Regions from separate parts of the Homo sapiens genome. Here region 1 is linked to region 2. The links come from fine-mapping of genetic effects on plasma protein levels. Region 2 holds a variant in brackets. A gene starts in the other region. All regions are shown on their forward strands.

Evidence for each region. A credible set is the group of variants that fine-mapping cannot tell apart. PIP is the chance, under the fine-mapping model, that this variant and not a neighbour inherited with it causes the effect. Protein levels are from antibody-based Olink assays in UK Biobank. Linkage for the fine-mapping came from a reference panel and not from the study's own genotypes, which makes the PIPs less certain.
Region 1: DRAXIN starts here. The variant in region 2 is the best candidate, but not a certain one, in a credible set for the plasma level of the DRAXIN protein (UK Biobank, PIP 0.61).

Annotation. Positions count from the first base shown.
Region 1 is chr1:11,690,127-11,693,034 of GRCh38, forward strand. DRAXIN (dorsal inhibitory axon guidance protein) reads left to right here and starts at 1,584. Exons shown (of 7, transcript NM_198545.4): 1 at 1,584-1,727. It also overlaps a transcript of MAD2L2 not described here. RefSeq lists enhancers at 1-391, 392-899.
Region 2 is chr8:129,585,459-129,588,366 of GRCh38, forward strand. The region is part of intron 1 of CCDC26 (CCDC26 long non-coding RNA); the gene reads right to left. Among named protein-coding and RNA genes, the nearest start is that of CCDC26, 93 kb to the right of the region's middle. RefSeq lists an enhancer at 1,266-2,465. The variant C/T (reference allele first, on the strand shown) is at 1,543.

The DNA of each region.
Region 1 (2,908 bases), not on the chromosome of region 2:
AATCACCACCTGACATCATTTATATTTATTTGTTCACTTATCTTCTGTCTCCTTCACTAGAATCTGAGCTCCATGGGGGCAGGGATTCTTGTCCATGTTGTTTACTACTGTACCTCCGGTGCCGGCACATAGTAGGTGTTCAATAGGTATTTATGGGATGGATGACTCAAACCTTTCAGTGAATAAACAGTTCAGTGTTCTCATCAATCCATCCTGGTGCCCACCAAGCTAATAATATCACGGTAACAATGGCAGCTAATTTTACAGGAGCATTTCCTATGGGCCAGACCTTAGAAACGTTATCTCCTTACACAGGGCACTGCATTCACGCCTAGAACACTGAAATTTAGGTATAATCATGAGCTCAGAGGTCAGGCGACTTGCTCGAGGTCATAGGGGACGGCATCAGAAGAGGAACACAGACATTTAGCCTGACGGCAGAACTGTGTTCTAAAACCTCAAAGTCATAATTTGCCACACGCTGGAGAAAGAAAACAGTCGAAATGGAAGCCACCTGGCGAGCTCAGGGCGCCAGGTGGGAGCGCTGCTTCCCACATATGGGAGTCCGGCCCCATCGCTCTTTGATCTTTGCAGCGTCCGTGGCCCCACCGACCCCGTCGTGAGTTATGGGAGGCACGGGACCCATAACCCAGCATTCTCAGACTCCCAGGGTCGTCAGGACACGGCGCCCCGCGCGGTGATGGATGAGCCGGCCCCAGCGCTGGCTTTGTCCGGGTTGGGCCGGTCTGAGAAGCTTCAGGCCGGCTTTGGACGGGGCGTGGCGAGAGCCGCGCCGCGTGTGAGTGTGTGTGTGTGTGTGTTTGTGTGTGTGTGTATTGGGGCGGTTGTCTTTCTCCCTTCCCTACCGGGAAAGAGGGCACAGGTGCGCCGTCAGCGCCCCAGGTGAGCTGGTAGCACTTTGAAGACCCTTTGTACCCCTACATCCAGGAGCGACCTCTCGGAGAACCCCGCCTGCCCACTCTGCGCACTTTCTGCGGCTACAAAGGCCCCGCCGTTCCCCGTCCCGCCTCCCCCGCCCTGGGCATTTCTTCCGTCCCTTTTGACAGTCTAGGCGGAATAATCCTTTTGTGGCCCCGGGCCCCTGCCCTGACAGACGCGGCCGCAGCTGAGCGCGCAGCCTCGCTCCATTGTTGGGGTCCACCGAGGACCGCCCGCCGCGGCCCTTTGTCGCCCGCCCTGCGCGGGGCCGCTCCAGAGGCGCCACAACTGCCGGAGCCCCTCCCGTCCCACGCGCCCTGGGCCGCGCCGAGGCGGCTCTTACGCACCGGGAGGAGTGGGCCTGCCTCGCCCGGTGCCCGCACGGCTGCTGGGCTGCGCCCGCCTTTGTCTGCCTCCTTTGTCTGCCCCGCGCCCTCGCGGCGGCGGCGCCTAGGCCTCTGGGGAGCTGGCCCAGAACTCAGAGCGCAGCTGGCGAGGGCGCGCTGGCCGGGTGCGCGCCGGGCCCGGCCCCGGGGCTGCCCCTCGGCTGGGGGCAGTCGAGCCCGCCACCCGCCGCCCCTCCTCTGTCCCCTCCCCGCGCTCCCGCCCCCTTCCCTCCTGCCCGCCCACTCCCCCTTCCTTCCAGTCCCGCTCAGCCCGGGCACATCCTCCGGCTGCCCGCGCACCTCTCCACGCCGGCCCCGTTCCGCGGCTCGCCCTCGGCTGCGCTCGGCTCCCGCGGGCGCTCGGCCCCGAGCCCCTCCTCCCCCTACCCGCCGGCCGGACAGGTAAGGCACGGCCTCGGCCCGCCCCTGGCTCCGCCCCTCCCGCCCCACCTGGCTGCGAGCCCGGACAAAGGTGGGCTACCTGGCGCGCCCAGGGGCGGGGTGCGCGGGGTCCCGAGGCTGGAAGTGAGGATGCTGCCTCCTTCCCAGCCCTCGGACCCGTCTATCCGCCAGTCCTTCCGCCGCCTCCTCTCCTCGCCGCGTCTGCCCACGGACCCTGGCTCTGCTCCCGGGCTCCCCATCCGTCCACCTACCGCTGGACGCCCACTTTTCCACGCTCTGACACTCGGCCTCGCGCGCGCCCTCGCCGCCCTCTGGGGTCCCGGCTCGCACCTACTCTCCTCGGCACTAGCCTTCTCTCTCCCTGACCCAGTCTCCCTTTGTCTCTCTGTCTCTGAGTCTCCGGGTGGTCTCTCAGGCAGGGGGCCCCAGTCCGCCACCGTTGGAAGAAGTCTTCGAAGACTCCCTGAGCCCCGGGCAGAGCTGGCGGGCGTGCCCTCCAGCCCCTTTCGAGGCCGCCCAGGAGGCTGGGGTGTGTGGCCGGGGTCGCTGAGTGCGCCCGGAACCAGCACCGCCGGTGGCCCCGCGCCGTCCCATCTGTGCCCAGGAAGGTACTCAGCCTGGCTCCCCCGACGGCGCTGGTCTTTCGCCTGTGGTCTCCCGCTCTGTCCCTCCTGCTCCCCACCGCCGGCTTTTGGCTTTTCTCCGTCCGCTCGTCAAGGGTCTCAGCCGCCTTCGGGGCCGGGGTATGAGATGAGAGAGGGCTGGGGTTTCCCGCCAAGTCTTTCTTGCTTTCCTCAGCTGGGTGCTCCCTGGGCCATCCTCTCCGCCCGGTGGTCTCCCCTGCCCTATATGCTCCCTCCACGCTGCCCACCTCCCAGCCCAGTGACACACTGGTGTCTGGAACCGGTTCAGTACTATGCATCTGGAGTCGGGTACACTGGGGCTCTGGGAGTGATCTCGGACAAAGGAATGCACCTCTCTGAGCCTCAGTGTTCCTGTCACAAAACAGGGATGGTGCTAGTCCCTACCTATAGGGATGTGTGTGGAAATTGTGGGGTGCCGCTTGGTGCTGGTTCACACACCCTGTGGAGGAAGGGAGGGGAGGGGAGGGGAGTCTACAGACCTGGGATGGGGTGGGGACAGGGGGCTCCACAGAAATGGATCTCAAAGTCAAGGCTTAG
Region 2 (2,908 bases):
AGAACAAATGAGAAAAATGGATGTTAACATTCTTTATAAATGACAAAGCACAATGTTAGCACCTGATCGCGATCTCATATTAGGTGTGCTCAAGGATTTGAACCATTGTGGAGAGGTCCTTTAAGTAAATAAATGTGGAAGTAGGGAAATCTCCTTACAGCAAAAAGCTAACAAACGAACGTGGAAAGGATGATGGAAATAGAAAACAACAATTTGGCAAACTTCAAAATAGTAATCAATTCAGGATAAGAATCATCAATGATGATAAAACTAGTAGCTTAAAGTATGAGGAGTAACAGAAATTTCACATAATAAAGTACCTCTTAAGATACTTATTAATTACAAAGGGAAAGGTTGGAAAACGCCTTTACGGCAGCATTTACTGTAACTGGCAGACACCATCTTCACCAAATAAAGTCAACATCACTAATAATGAGGGAAATTGACATCATGTGCAGCCTGATAATAATGAATGAAAAAGGACATAACATCACTTCTATGATATTCCAGCTGAAAATGTATGACCTGAATCTAACCATGAGGAGATACTGGAGAATCTCAGATTAAGAAACATTCTGCAAAAATCTCACCAGTACTTTTCTAAAATGTCATTGTCATAAAAGACAGAAAACTGTTCCAGATTTAAAAAGATGAGACACTAATAAAGTCAATGTGTGATCCAGTGTTTTCTTTTACCATATAGCATAAAACTGGAACAATTGGTGAAATTCAACTGAGGTCTGTAGATTAGGTAATAGTTTTGTATTAATGTTAATTTCCCAGTTTTGATGATTAACAATAGTGCTTATGTAACAAAATGCATTTTCAGAAAGTACACATCGAAGTCTTTAGGGATAAAGAACATTATGTCTATACATTTCAAATAATTCAGGAAAAAATATGGCATTATATGAAAATATATGGTATCATATAAAAATATATGGCATATATAATAGATGGTACATATATATTAAATTAAGTAAAGTTGGTAAATTATTAACACGAGGGAAACTCCTTGTACTATTCTGCCAATGTTTTAAAAAGTCTGAAATTTTGTCAAAATAAAAAGTTAAAAGCAGTAGCAAGAAAGAGGTACAATGTGGATAACTTTAATCAGCCCAGAACCAACACAAAGCATAGCGAAGAGGTTTGGCTGCACTTTCCAGAAACTCCAGATGCCAAACATGTTTCACCCATTTTTTTATCCCTGTCTTCCAGGCTTCTGATATTCATGACAAGATGGGAGATGATACTAAATGGGCCCATTTCTTCAGTGATGGTTTCCCATAACTAAGCAGTGTCGTTAGAACCACCTATATTATTGCCGAGCCAGCTGGAGTCTTAAAAGTTTATTTCCTAGAACACATAGTCCACATAATCTCTTCCATTACTGCTGGAAGGCAGCAGGGTACCTCTCCTGTAGTGCCTCATGCCACCACAAATAGATCATGCAGAAATCAGGTGGCAATGGGGTCTCTCCTGCTATTTGCACCATATGATGGCTGTTTGTTGTGCTGGACTCTTCATTTGCCACTTGAGCCA[C/T]GGTGTTCAGCTCCTATCCGCCCTGGAAAAAAACACTGGCAAAGTCAGCTGGGCCAGGATGCTTTGCATTTTGAGGAATCATGAAATGGCCAGTCCCAGCTAATGGATAAAAGGTAACTCACCATCCCCACAGTGACCCAAGGACTATACTGGACAATAGAGACAAAAATGCATCCCCTCCTCCCAACTGGTGAAGACAATCTAGAGACAGTGCAAGAGTGCTCCCTTCTGCCCAGAGCTCAAATTGCCCTAACTTCACACAGTTTCACCTCAAGAGAGTTTGAGATGAACCCTTCTGCTTCTGGAGCACACATCTTAAATGCTATCCCATAGTCGCCCCTTAAGCCTGCACTTAAGATTTCACCTTTATGATCTCATTTCATCTCTTCAACAACCTCAATAGCTAAGTAGAGCAGATATCATCACACCCTCTAACAGGTGATTTGAAACAGGTGCCTCAATAGTAAATTACTTACCCAACGTCAGGAAGACTCCCCACAGAAAGCCTCATCTCCGTATTTAAAATTCAGTGGCTGCAAAGAATGGCTTTAAATTCTCCTGCACCCCGAAAAGTATAGGCAAGATTCTGCAATTCTGGGTCATCCTCAGTGATGAAGGGGCTGGGGAGGAATGGAAAACTGGCAGAGGGACTATCTACAGTCATTATAAGTCAATACAGGCTTTATTAGCTTTCCTGTTGAGATCTGACCTACCTAGCGCTATCTTCTTGGTTTCTCATGAATCTACTGTTCTTCACTACCTGCCCTCAGTAGGAGCTGCCAGAATGGAAATGACTATCAAATCTGAAGAGAAAACAGACGAGACTTGTGCCACAGAGAGCATCGATCCAGGACTACGGGGTTCAAGGCTCTCAGCTCACTCAGACCATGGGGGTAGGGAAGAGGAGGGGAGGACAGGTGCTTCTTCAGGTACAAGTGAATTTCCTATCCCTGGAGTTTACAAGCAGAAGCAAGCATAGTAATCCCACCTCTCAGTCTGCACACCTGAGAAACACACACATTTGTTTGCACAAGGAGCCACATACAAGATTCTTTTTACAGTAGGAGAAAAAAAGAGATGACAACAATTTATCAGTAGAGGAATGGTGAAATAAACCATGATATATCTCCATTAATCAATACTAATAATCAGTTAAAAGAAAGAGGTATATTTGTACATAATTTCAAGAAAAAGTCCAAGTGATATAATAATGAGAGATGAAATTATTTGATTTATGTTAAAACATATACATACCAAGGTACCCAAACATGTATATAAAGATGTAGATAAAGCTTTAGAAAGCTGTGCACCAAAATGTTAACATGGGTTTCCTCTGAGAAAACTTCAGGGGTTTGGAGAAAACCTC